Linked DNA regions of Homo sapiens. The protein of the gene in region 1 interacts with the protein of each later gene in a pairwise test. Each region holds a gene or a part of one and is shown in the gene's direction. Other genes may lie near its edges.

Region 1 (7,026 bases):
CTCGATGAGCTGTATCCTTAGTCTTTTCCAAATACAAGTTGCTGAATAAATGTTTCTTAAAGATGACTGATATGATTAGGCTTTGTGTCCCCACCCAAATCTCACCTTGAATTATAATCCCCATAATCCCCATGTGTCAGGGAAGAGACCAGGTGGAGGGAATTGGATCATGGCGGCGGTTTCCCCCATACTGTTCCTCGTGACAGTGAGTTCTCATGAGATCTGGTGGTTTTATAAGTGTTTGGTAGTTCCTCCTGCATTCATTCTCCTTCCTGCTACCTTGTGAAGAAGGTGCCTTGCTTCCCCTTCACCTTCTGCCATGATTGTAAGTTTTCTGACGCCTCTCCAGCCATGTGGAACTGTGAATCAATTAAACCTCTTTCCTTTATAAATTACCCAATCTCAGGCAGTTCTTTATAGCAATATGAAAATGGACTAATACAATGACAGATAGGCATTTCTACTTTCCCCCACTTTTGTAAGTATCATGAAAGTAAGGTTGTTGAGAGAAGAGAGTAAGTGAAGGGGAAATGGCAACAGTAAACTATAAAAAAGATTGAAGAGTGGGAATTCACGGAATCAGAAATAAAGATTCTGTTCCTAGAAAGTGAGTATTTGAGAATTTCCCATGGCAATACCAGCAGTAAGGACTCTCAGGAATGCTGGCACTATTCTTCAGTGGGCTTGGGGAGTTTGGTCAATTTCCTGGTTCCTAGTAGAATATCAGTTTATTAATTATATTTTTTTCATCAGGACTGCCCTCTCTAGGTCATGGAGAGATCACTGACTGTCAAGTCTAGTACTATTTCTTTTTTCTTTTTTTTTTTTTTGAGATGGAGTTTTGCTCTGTCGCCCAGGCTGGAGCGTAGTGGTGCAATCTTTGTTCACTGCAACCTTGAACTCGTGGGTTCACGTGATTCTCCTGCCTCAGCCTCCCAAGTGGCTGGGGCTAACAGGTGCATGCCACCACACCTGGCTTTTTTTTTGTATTTTGAATAGAGACAGGGTTTCACCACATTGGCCAGGCTGGTCTCGGAACTCCTGGCCTCAAGTGATTCACCCACCTTGGCCTCCCAAAGTGCTGGGATTGTAGGTGTGAGCCAATGCGCCCGGCCTACTATTTCTTTTAACTGAGCTATAATCCAGGATGGAAGAAATTAAGGAAATGCCCAGTTATTTGCCTTCTGTATATTGTGACTTCAGATTGCTTTTGGATTAAAATTCAGAGTTAGTAGGAACCTAAACCTGGCCATTCCCTTTTGGAAAGCACCTATCTTCTGTCTCAAAATATGTCTATAAAATGTCCATGTAGTTTTTACAGTCTCACCAAAAATCCTGTATCTAATGCTTATAACAAAGAGTTACTTCAGTTGAAGATATAGAAAGTGAAGTTGAGTCTCAGAATGCTTTCATAAATATTCGTTTGATTCAGTTACTTCTTGAGTGAATTTGCCATTCTAGCTTCTGAGTTGTTGCCCAGTAACACAATTGCAGTATAATATAGCAACCCTTGAAAACAGTAGCATTGGACTATAGGGATTTTCCTGATGAAGTTGCATTGCCTATCTCTGATGTTCATATTCAGCCTCTCTCAAGTGTGATTGCATTTTGTTTTAAGGCAGCTATTTCAGATATTGTTAAACTTAAGGGGCATGCAATATATGCTCTTAAGGATATTTTTTAGAGTACTGATGAATTATAACTTCTTTCACATTGTTTTCCACATAGAGATGCATGATAATGTGTCCGGAATTGGTTCATTCTGGTGGGTTCTTGGTCTCGCTGACTTCAAGAATGAAGCTGCGGACCCTCGTGGTGAATGTTGCAGTTCTTAAAGATGGTGTGTCCGGAGTTTGTTCCTTCAGATGTTCAGATGTGTCCGGAGTTTCTTCCTTCTGGTGGGTTCATGGTCTTGCTGACTTCAGGAGTGAGGCTGCAGACTTTTGCAGTGAGTGCTACAGCTCTTAAAGGTGGCGCGTCCGGAGTTGTTCATTCCTCCCGGTGGGTTCGTGGTATTGCTGGCTTCAGGAGTGAAGCTGCAGACTTTCGCAGTGAGTGTTACAGCTCTTAAAGGTGGCGCGTCCGGCATTGTTCATTCCTCCCGGTGGGTTCGTGGTCTCGCTGGCTTCAGGAGTGAAGCTGCGGACCTTCGTGGTGAGTGTTACAGCTCATAAAGGCAGTGTGGACCCAAAGAGTGAGCAGCAGCAAGATTTATTGCGAAGAGCAAAAGAACAGAGCTTCCACGGCATGGAAGGGGACCCGTGTGGGTTGCTGCTGCTGGCTCAGGTGCCTAGCTCTTCTTCCCTTATTTGGCCCCACCCACATCCTGCTAATTGGTCCATTTTACAGAGAGCTGATTGGTCCATTTTACAGAGTGCTGATTGGTCCGTTTTTACAGAGTGCTGATTGGTGCGTTTACAAACCTTTAGTTAGACACAGAGCGCTGATTGGTGCATTTGCAATCCTTTAGCTAGACAGAAAAGTTCTCCAAGTCCACACCGGACCCAGAATCCCAGCTGGCTTCATGTCTCAATAAGTATGTATTGAATTATTTTTTGTGTGAAGGACACGTGAAAATACTGGTTCAATTAAAGATTATTCTGGGCAGAAAAAGTATTATGTAATAACAGACTTCTCTACAACTGATATAGCCAGCCAGAGCTGGAGTGGATGAAGTTGAAATGGTTCTTTATAACATTTTTGTATTACTTCTAGAGCTTCATAGAAAGCTGAGATCACTAAGCACAATTTAATAGGTACTCTAATTTTTTTTTTTTTTTTTGAGACATAGTCTTACTCTGTCAGCAGGCTAGAGTGCAGTGGTGTGATCTCAGCTCACTGCAACCTCTGCCTCCTGGGTTCAAGCGATTCTCCTGCCTTAGCCTCCCAAGTAGCTGGGACTACAGGCACATGCAACCATGCCCAGCTAATTTTTTGATTTTTAAGAGAGACGGAATTTCACTATGTTAGCCAGGATGGTCTTGATCTCCTGACCTTATGACCCACCTGCCTTGGCCTCCCAAAGTGCTGGGATTACAGGTGTGAGCCACTGCGCCCGGCCTAGGCACTGTAATTTTGTGGGAAGAGAATTGTGATTCAGGAGACCAAGGCTTGACTGGGTGAGTCACTTCACCTTTCATGGCCTATTTTCTCATTTGAAAACATAAATCTCTGAAAGTTTCCTTCAGAAATGGTATGCTTCCAATTTAAAGCAAATTTTATTTCTCTTATATATGGGTTTAATCAATATTTGAGTGCCTATTATGTGTCTCATGCTATGCTAGGCACTGGGGAGATTGTGAATAAGACATAGTGCTAAGTCTCAAGCACCTTATTCTCTGATGGGAGAAATGGACAAAGTAATTAGTAATTTGTAATAAAGCATGTTAAATGCTATAAGGATAGATAAGAATGTGTTTTGGGGCATGTAGGAAGAATACCTGGCCTAGAACTAGAAAGAATACACAAAAATTGAGGAATGTCTCTTTAGAATCTTGTAAGTGTAGTTGTAGGGTGTACAGAGCAGTATTCAACTTGGCCCGGAGGAAGTTAGTCAAAGAAAACTAGGAAAACAATTCTTGAAGTTGGAGAGAGAGAAGAGTCATCAACGTTAGTGGTAGTTGAAATACCAGGTATAGATGAGGTTCCTAGTGAGAGTTGTGTAGAATCAGAAGAGAGCTTGTGAACACCAGCATGTAATAGGAAGGGGGAGAAAGAAGGTAGGAAAACCAGAGTAGGGTAACGTTTTGGAAACCAAAGAAAGAATGCACATCACATTTAGTTTATTGATTAAATGGAAATTGTTGCTCAAGAAACATTGAGTGTGTAGTCCTATAAATGTAAACCTATCTAAATAAAGATGCCCTCTACAAAGATCTGAACTTGCAAATGGGGGTAGTTTAAGTCCTTGTTTAGCAGCGTAACAGAGGAAAGAGTATGTACTTTGGAGCCTGGATCCTGAGAGTGAAGGTTAGATTACTAGCTGCGTAACTTTTTGAACCAGTTACTTAATTTTTTGGTCCTTAATGTATGGATTAAAATAAGGTAAGCTGTAAACTTGACTTTTAGTGGGCATTGTTGATTTTTATCCTTGCCATTATTAATGACTCTTCTGAACTACATACCCTTCTTTTCCTTCCCCATCCCCCGTCATATTCTTTCATCCTTCAAGATCCACCAAAATTCCTGCCTTTTCTTTGATATCTTCCTCTATGGATGATATTACAAATTTTCTGTAATGGAATGAACATGTCCTGTGTCCCTTAGAATTAGCAACGTTATTCTTTTTTCTTTTTCTTTTTTAAAGCCTTAAGAAGGAAATTGTATTATCTCACATGTAAGAAGTCTGGAGATAGGTGGTTCTAAGATTGTCAATTAAGTGGCTTAGTGATAATCTTTAAGAACCTGGATTCTTTTTGCTTGGTCATCCTTTGAACTCAGCCTTGATTACTACAACTATCAACAAATTTTCCAAAGTTTGGAAGAGATAACTTCTTTCTTCTACCTAGCCCTTTTTAAACAGCTTTATTGAGATATATTTTACCTACCATAAAAACCACTCATTGTAAGTGTACAATTTAATGGTTTTTAGCAACTTTATAGAGTTGTGCGACTGTCATCACAAGGCAATTTCTGACATTTTATCAGTCTCCTAGATTCTCTCAAGCTTATTTGCATTTAAGGTAACTCCTTCCCACAGCCCCAGAGAACCACTGATCTACTTTCTATCACTATAAATTTGTCTTTTCTACATATTTCATATAAATGGAATCAATACAGTAGTCTTTTGCATCTGGCTTCTTTAACTTCATGCTTTTGAGGTTTATTTAATGTATGTATATCAATGTTTTGTTCTTTTTAATTGTTGCATAGTATTCGTGTGTATTTTCCATTCACCAGTTGAATAGTATTGGTGAATAGTATTTCCCATTTACTGGTAACCAGTGAATAGTATTTCCCATTCACTAGGTGATAGACATTGGATGGTTTCCAGTTTTTGGCTGTTATGAATAATGCTGCTATGAAGATTTGTCTGTAATTCCTTGTGTGAGCATATGTATTCATTTGTTTTGGGTAAATTCCTAGGAGTGGAATTGTTGAATTATATGGTAAGCTTATTTTTAACTTTTAAAGAAACTGTCAAAATGTTTTCCAAAGTAGCTGTACCAATTACATCCTACCAGCAATGTATGATGATTCCAGTTTCTCCACATCCTCACCAACAGTTGGTATTATCTTTTTAATTATAGCCATTCTAGTTAGTATCTAGTAGTATCCCATTGTAATTTTAATTTGCATTTCCCTGCACAGTAATGTTGGACACCTTTTTCTGTGGTTATTGGCCATTTGGTGGAATATCTGTTTAAGGCATTTGCCCATTTTTTAGCTGGGTTTTTTTTTTTTTTTTTTTGGTCTTACTGAGTTGTAAGAGTTCTTTATATATGCTGGATGAAAGTTTGTATTGTTTTTAATATCAGAGATAAGATTTGCAAATATTTCTCCCAGTTGGTGTCTTGGCTTTTCATATTTTTACTGTTGTCTTTTGAAGTGCAAAAGTTTTTAATGAAGTCATTTCTTTTGTGTGTGTGGCACGTACTTTCATGTTATGTATACGAACTTTTTGCCTAATCCAAGGTCCCAAAGATTTTTCTTTGAGCTCCCAAAGGTCTTCTTTGAGCTCTTTCCTTTAAATATAAGATTCATATTGAATTAACCGTGCATTTGATGTAAGAAGAGGATCTAAGTTCATTTTTTAAAAATGTGAATGCCAAATTATCCAGTACCATTTGTTAAAAAGACTGTTCTTTTCCCTTCAATTGTATTGGCATCTTTGTAAAATATCAGTTGACTATAATGTAAGAATTTATTCCAAGACTCATGTCTATAAACCTATCCTTACTCCAACACTATTCTGTCTTGATTACTGCAGTTTTATAGTAAGTTTCAAAATAAGTAGTGTAACATTTTCTTCTTTTTCAAAATTGGTTCTATGCTCTTTCCATTTCCATATACAATTTAGGATCAGCTTGTTAATTTCTACAAAAACACATCTGATGTTTGTAGGATTTGCATTGAATCTATCCATCAATATGGGAAGAATCACTAACTTAACCATCTTGAGTCTTCCAATCCATGAACATGTAATATCTCTCCATTTACTTAGATCTTTCATTTCTCTTAATAATGTTTTTTACTTTTCAGTGTACAAATCGTGCACTTATTTGGTTAAATTTATTCCTAAGACTGTTATAATTTTGATGCTCTTGGAAATGGAGTTTTCATGATTTGATTTCAAATTGTTCATTGTTAGCACAAAAAAATGCAATCGTCCAGGCTTGGTGGCTCACGCCTGTAATCCCAGCACTTTGGGATCCAAGGCAGGTGGATCACGAGGTCAGGAGATCGAGACCATCTTGGCTAACACGGTGAAACCCCGTCTCTACTAAAAATACAAAAAAGTTAGCTGGGAGTGGTGGCGGGCACCTGTAGTCCCAGCTACTCGGGAGGCTGAGGCAGGAGAATGGCGTGAACCCGGGAGGCGGAGCTTGCAGTGAGCTGAGATTGTGCCACTGCACTCCAGCCTAGAAGACAGAGCGAGAATCTGTCTAAAAAAAAATGCAACCAATTTTTGCATATTGTTTGTACATAGATGATCATGTCTCAAAACGATACTTTTTCTTTCCAATCTCAATGTTATTTATTTCTTCATTTTTGCTTTAATTCTTGGGTTAGACCCTCCAGTAAGATGTTGAAGAGAAGTGTTGAATGTGCATTGCATTACTCCCAGTCTTAGGGGGAAAACATGCAGATTTTTGCCATCAGGTATAATGTTAGCTGTAGATTTTCTATAGATGCCCTTTGAAGAAGGTTAAGGAAGCTCCCTTATGTTCCTAGTTTGTTGCAAGTTTTTAATCATGAGTGGGTGTTAGATTTTGTCATGTTTTTTCCTGCATCTGATGATATGGTTATATGATTTTTATTGTTAGTATGCTATATATTAATTGATTGTTGGAGATTAAACCCACC
Region 2 (7,026 bases), on another chromosome or scaffold:
GTATTTTTAGTAGAGAGAGGGTGTCACTGTGTTAGCCAGGATGGTCTTGATCTCCTGACCTCGTGATCCGCCCGCCTCAGCCTCCCAAAGTGCTGGGATTACAGGCGTGAGCCACCGCGCCTGGCCTTTTATTTTTATTTTTAGTAGCAACGGGTTTCACCATATTGGCCAGGCTGGTCTCAAACTCCTGCCCTCAAGCGATTCGCCCGCCTTGGCTCCCAAAGTGCTGGGATTACAGGCATAAGCCACTGCGCCCGGCCCCATCCAGAAAGCATTCTGCTGTGCACGATCTAATCATATCCATTGCACAATTCAGAAGGAAGGTTGGGTTGACTCTTCCCATTTTACAAGCCAGACTATAAGAGGCTCCAACAGGTGAAAACCTTTATCTGAAGACACGGAATACTAATCACTGCCCCTTAGAGAAGCAGCATAGCACAGCGTCATGAACTCAGGCTCAGGGACTTGCCCAGGTAAATCTCAGCTTTGCAACTTCCCACCTGTGGACCTGGAGCCAGTGATTCTGCCTCTTTGGGTGTCAATGTCTTCATCCGTAAATGGAGATAATAATAGTAACCACCTTAGGGGGCTGGTTGAGGTTTAAATTAATTAAAATGCGTAAGGCCATTAGAACAGAGTCCAGCGCATACTAAATGCTCTTTGTGTGTGCCAGGCACTGTTCTAGTCCCTCCACCAACACTCTTAAGATCAGCACTAATTGTCGGGGCGCGGTGCCTCACGCCTGTAATCCCAGCACTTTGGGAGGCAGAGGTGGGCGGATCACGAGGTCAGGAGATCGAGACCATCCTGGCTAACCCGGTGAAACCTCGTCTCTACAAAAAAAATACAAAAAATTAGCCAGGCATGGTGGCAGGTGCCTGTAGTCCCAGCTACTCAGGAGGCTGAGGCAGGAGAATGGCATGAACCCAGGAGGCGGAGCTTGCAGTGAGCCAAGATCATGCCACTGCACTCCAGCCTGGGCCAAAGTGTGAGACTCCGTCTCCAAAAAAAAATAAATAAATAAAAATAAAAAAAGATCAGCACTAATTAATTAGCCTATTATATGGACCAGGAACTGAGGCATGGAGAGGTGAATGAGCCTCCCATAATGATAATAACCACACTCACTAAAGTCTCACTGCAGCTAAGCAAGTTTACATGTGTTAAAAATGTTTCCGCCAAATGTGGTGGCTCATGCCTGTAATCCCAGCACTTTGGGAGGCTGAGGCAGAAGGATCGCTTGAGCCCAGGAATTCGAGACCAGCCTGGGCAACATAGTGAGACCTCATCTCTACTAAAAATGAAAAAATTAACCAGGCATGGTGGCACACACCTATAGTCCTAGCTACTTGGGAGGCTGAAGTGAGAGGATCGCTTGAGCCCAGGAGTTCAAGACCAGCCTGGGCAATCAACATGGTGAGACCTCATCTCTACTAATAATGAAAAAATTAATCAGGCATGGTGGCGCACACCTGTAGTCCTAGCTACTTGGGAGGCTGAAGTGAGAGGATCACTTGTGCCCAGGAGTTTGAGGCTGCACTGTGCCAGGGTCGTGCCACTGCACCCCTGGCATGGGCAACAAAGTGAGACCCTGTCTAAAAAAAAAAAAAGTTTCCGCCAGATGATCACTCCATGAGGTGGCTTACTATCTCTATTTTACAGATGAAACTGAGGCTCAATAAGTCCCCTGACCAAAGTTACAGCATGATAATAGCTAACAGGCTGAGCACAGTGGCTTCACACCTGTAATCCCAGCACTTTGGGAGGCCAAGATGGGGAGGATCGCTTGAGGCCAGGAGTTTGAAACTAACCTGGGCAACATAGGGATACTCCATTTCTATTTTTAACAAAAGTTTGTTGTTGTTGTTGTTGTTTTAATTAGCCAGGCTTTGGTGGCGTTCACCTGTAGTCCCAGCTACTCGGGAGACTGAGGAGGGAAGATTGCTTGAACCCAGGAGTTCAAGGTTACACTGAGCTATGATTGCACCACTGCACTCCAGCCTGGGCCACAGAGTGAGACCCTGTCTCTAAAATAGAAAAAAAATTTCAATAACGAATACTTGCTGATCCTTTACTTAATACCAAGCCCTGTTCTGAGGGCTTTAATTTCTCTATAACAGCCCTGTCCAACAGAGCTTTCTGTAATGGTGGAAATATTCTGTCTGTGCTGTCCAGTAAAGTAGCTACAAGCTACATGTGACAATTGAGCACTTGAAATATGGCTAGTGTGACTGGGGAAATGCATTTTTAATTTAGTTTAAATGTATTGATTTGTATTTTTATTTATTTATATTTTTTCTTGAGACAGAGTCTTGCTCTGTTGCTCAGGCTGGAGTGCAGTGGTGCTATCTGGGCTCACTGCAACCCTCCTGGGTTCAAGCAATTCTCCTGCCTCAGCCTCCCGAGTAGCTGGGATTACAGGCGTGCACCATCATGCCTGGTTAATTTTTGTATTTTTAGTAGAGATGGGGGTTTCACCATGTTGGCCAGGCTGGTCTTGAACTCCTGACCTCAGGTGATCCTCCCACCTCGGCCTCCCAGAGTGCTAGGATTATAGGTGTGAGCCACCGCGCCCGGACTAAATTTATTTATTTTTAAATTTAAAAATCATCTGAGTCTTCTTTCTAAGGTATGTATTTATTTATTTTTGAGACAGGGTCTTGCTTGTTGCCCAGGCTGGAGTGCAGTGGCACCATCATAGCTCACTGCACCCTTGAACTCCTGGGCTCAAGCGATCCTCCCACCTCAGCCTCCCAAGTAACTGGGACAACAGGCTTGAGCTACTGCACCTGGTTACCTTTTTTCTTTCTTTTATAGAGAATAGGGTCTTGCTGTCTTTGTTTTTTGGAACAGATTAAGATTAGAGGGTCTCGCCATTTTCACCCAGGCTGGTCTGAAACTCCTGGCCTCAAGTGATCCTCCAGCCTTGGCATCCCAAAGTGTTGGGATTATAGGCATGAGCCACCACACCCGGCCTTAGTTTAAATTTAAATTGTTGGCCAGGCATGGTGGCTCATGCCTGTGATCCCAGCACTTTGGGAGGCCGAGGCGGGTGGATCACCTGAGGTCAGGAATTCGAGACCAGCCTGGCCAACATGGCGAAGCCCCGTCTCTACTAAAAATACAAAAATTAGCCAGGCGTGGTGGCATGCACCTGTAGTCCCAGCTACTTGGGAGGCTGAGATGGGAGAATTGCTTGAACCCAGGAAGTGGAATTTGCAGTGAGCCGAGATCGTGCCACTGCACTCGAGCCTGGCAACAGAGTGAGACGCTGTCTCGAAAAAAAAAAAAATAAATAAAATAAATAAATAAATAAATTTACATTGTCCTATGTGGCTAGTCACTATTCACTATATGAGACAGGGCAACTCTTTAACAATCCTATAAGGTGAGTATAATTTCTGTTCCCATTTCACAGCAAAGGAAGTTGAGGCACACAGAGGTTAAGTCATGTAGCCAGCAAATGGTGATGTGTGACCTGGGGTTTGGGCCCAGGGCGGCCTCATGCAACCCACCTTGCTGCCCGTGTGTGGGCACTCCACGTTGGCCTCCCAGCATTCCTTCCTTAGCCATCGCCTCCCTTCTCTCCCCAGACGGGCACACTGCGGTTCTGTGGGACCACGGAGTTTGCCAGCGGCCAGTGGGTGGGCGTGGAGCTGGACGAACCTGAGGGCAAGAACGATGGCAGCGTTGGGGGCGTTCGGTACTTCATCTGCCCTCCCAAGCAGGGTTAGTCCGACCTCGGGCCCAAGAGGGGTGTGGCTGGGTGTCCACTCGGCAGTTCTGATGCTGCTGACTGGGAAATAGGGGATGGAGGATGGGGGCCGAGGGCAGAGGCTTGGACAACACCAGGCTCGGATTCTGTACCCCTAGGTCTCTTTGCCTCCGTGTCCAAGATCTCCAAGGCAGTGGACGCACCCCCCTCCTCTGTCACCTCCACACCCCGGACCCCCCGGATGGACTTCTCCCGTGTCACCGGCAAAGGCCGCAGGGAACACAAAGGTCAGAGAGGGGATCCCTGTGGTGGGAAGAGCCAGTTTGGGGATGTTGTGTGGGTAGCTCAGCTTCTGTGACTCAGTTTCTCCTCAGGCCCAAACTCCAGTTTTGGAAGACAAGCTCTGAGTTCCTGACTTCTGTGACTCAGTTTCCCCTTTGGCTCAGTACTGGCACCCCCTAGTTCTTAGAAGGACCTGTGGGTTCCCTGCCCTCTGTGACTTAGTTTCCTCTCAGACCCAAAGGTCTCCCCCAGTTTTAGGGAAGAATCCTTGGAGATCCTGTCTTTTGTCATTTGATCTACTTTTTTTTTTTTTTTTTTTTGAGTCAAGAGTCTCGCCTTGTTGCCCAGGCTGGAGCGTGGTGGCACGATCTTGGCTCACCGCAACCTCCGCCTCCCGGGTTCAAGCAATTCTCGTGCCTCAGCCTCCCGAGTAGCTGGGATTACAGGTGCCCACCACCACATCTGGCTAATGTTTGTATTTTTTTCTGTAGAGACAGGGTTTTGCCATGTTGGCCAGGCTGGTCTCAAACTCCTGACCTCAAGTGATCTGCCCGCCTCGGCCTCTCAAAATGTTGGGATTACAGGCCTGCGCCACTGCACATGGCCTGATTTACTCTCGGACCCAATTTTCCCTTCATTTTAAAAGGACAGTTTCTGGGTTCCTGACTTCTGACTCAGCTTTTCCTTATCCAACATATCCTCAGCTTTGAGAAAGGATTTTGGGGTTCTTCAGGTTCTCTGACTCAGTTTCCCTTCAGGCCTAAAGCCCCTTCCTAATTCTCTGGCATCTGGGATTCAGTTTCACTTCAAACGAAGAACAGGGTTTTCTACCTTGGGGTTTTCCAGGTGGCACGAGGTTCCCAAAGCTGGCCTCAGCCCCACTACCCACCTCCTACACCTTCTACCCTTAGGCAAGAAGAAGACCCCATCATCCCCATCTCTGGGCAGCTTGCAGCAGCGTGACGGGGCCAAGGCTGAGGTTGGAGACCAGGTCCTTGTCGCGGGCCAGAAGCAGGGGATCGTGCGCTTCTACGGGAAGACAGACTTTGCCCCAGGTGAGGATGGGGACTCTGGGCCGGGAGGCAGGCAGGGCCTTGAGAAATCCTGACACCCTCGTGCTGCAGGTTACTGGTATGGCATTGAGCTGGACCAGCCCACAGGCAAGCATGATGGCTCTGTCTTCGGTGTCCGGTACTTCACTTGCCCCCCGAGGCATGGGGTCTTCGCACCAGCATCCCGTATTCAGAGGTGAGCCCAAACTTCCAGCCCAAACCCAGGGCACCACCTGGAGCCCTGATCCCCCCTCAGATGGCCTCCTCCTCCCAGACCAGCAGGACAGTGTGGACACCCCCGAGCCCCCAGCCCTTTCCTCATAGATCCCTGGGGCCCAGCTCTCAGTCAGACCCTGGCCTTTTGTGGCTCTGACTTCTCCCCCTCCCCGTGTCTCCTCAGGATTGGCGGATCCACTGATTCCCCCGGGGACAGCGTTGGAGCCAAAAAAGTGCATCAAGTGACAAGTGAGTTAGGGGATGATATGTTGGGAGGAGTGTACGTTTGGGGATGGGAGGAAGGGTCATGGGTTCTCAGGTATATACTGGTGACAGTCTCTGGTATTTAATTGGGGACACAGGGTCCAGGAAAATGATGAGACAAGGTCCACAAAAAGATAGGTGCTAGAGGATATGAGGAAATTAGCAACAAGGCTCTTCGGGGACATGAGGTTGAGCAGATACTGGGGACAGGGATAGTCACTGGGGGACATGGTGGGAATTATGGACAAGAGGCCCAGATGGGTATTGGGAATGTAGGATCCAGGTGGGGACTGGAGACATGGGGAGGTATTAATGAGAAGGGGTCTGGATGGGTATTGAGGACACAGGTGGTCTGTCATCCCCTCACTTGACATCCTGCCCTCCTCTTCAGTGACGCAGCCCAAACGCACCTTCACCACAGTCCGGACCCCAAAGGACATTGCATCAGAGAACTCCATTTCCAGGTGTGTGGCCAACCCCTGTCCCCTCTCCTATGTGACATTCAGGGAGAGGGATCCATAAGGCAGTTGGACCCAGAGGTCTGGAGCTCTGGTCAGGGCTGGAAAGAGAGGTTAGGAAAACTTGTGACTTGTAAGCATACCCAGAAACAGTCTTTAGGGTGTAGGGCCCCGCACTGAATTCTAGTGAATTCCACTTTCGGGTGGGCCGGTAAAGGAAGCAGAACACCCTTCACTCCATACGAGCCTCAGAACAACAGCTAGAGACCGGGCGGGGTGGCTCATGCCTTTAATCCCAGCACTTTGGGAGGCCAAGGCAGGCGGATCACCTGAGGTCAGGAGTTCAAGACCAGCCTGGCCAACATGGTGAAACCCCGTCTCTACCAAAAACACAAAAGTTAGCCGGACACAATGGCATACACCTGTAGTCCCAGCTACTCGGGAGGCTGAGACAGGAGAATTGCTTGAACCTGGGAGGCAGAGGTTGCAGTGAGCCGAGATCGTGCCATGGCACTCCAGCCTGGGTGACAGAGTGAGACTCCATCTCAGAAAACAAACAAACAAACAAACCACAGCCAGAGAGGTAGAGGCAGAATCCAGAAAGGCCTGATAGCAAACACTGGGGGAAAGGCTGGGGGTGATGGGTGCAGATGTCCCCGCTGCCTGCCTAAGGGCGTGACCCTGTCATCCTCCTTTCCAGGTTGCTGTTCTGCTGCTGGTTCCCCTGGATGCTGAGGGCGGAGATGCAGTCTTAGAGGCCCTGGACACCTGACAAAGAGACAGAGTCCCCACTAGCATCTCCTGACACCCGAGGAGCCCTGAGTCACCCTGAGATAGAGATTCCCAGTAACACATCCAGAGTAGAGACCCCTGTTAGCCAGCCCTCGATCATTGAGGCCCCATTATTAACAGATACTCCCATAATAACCCCCAAATACAGACCCCATGTCACCCAGAAAGAGATTCCCTGAGTAGCACCTTCAGGCTAGTCCCTATCCCCAACCCCTCAGAGCAGATTCCCAGATTAACAGATTTCCAT

Evidence for each region. Proteins that work in one complex are often made in the same cells at the same time.
Region 2: the proteins of CEP83 (region 1) and CLIP3 interact in binary tests that used the Homo sapiens proteins (3 or more experiments, as listed by UniProt).

Annotation. Positions count from the first base shown.
Region 1 is NC_000012.12:94,449,852-94,456,877, reverse strand, and holds part of CEP83 (centrosomal protein of 83 kDa), read left to right. Parts: intron 1-7,026. UniProt on the Homo sapiens protein: Component of the distal appendage region of the centriole involved in the initiation of primary cilium assembly.
Region 2 is NC_000019.10:36,015,874-36,022,899, reverse strand, and holds part of CLIP3 (CAP-Gly domain-containing linker protein 3), read left to right. Parts: intron 1-3,515; exon of another isoform or gene 3,516-3,593; coding exon 3,594-3,729; intron 3,730-3,873; coding exon 3,874-4,002; intron 4,003-4,908; coding exon 4,909-5,052; intron 5,053-5,121; coding exon 5,122-5,245; intron 5,246-5,449; coding exon 5,450-5,514; intron 5,515-5,920; coding exon 5,921-5,993; exon of another isoform or gene 5,994-6,088; intron 6,089-6,687; coding exon 6,688-6,742; 3' UTR 6,743-7,026. UniProt on the Homo sapiens protein: Functions as a cytoplasmic linker protein. Involved in TGN-endosome dynamics. May modulate the cellular compartmentalization of AKT kinase family and promote its cell membrane localization, thereby playing a role in glucose transport in adipocytes.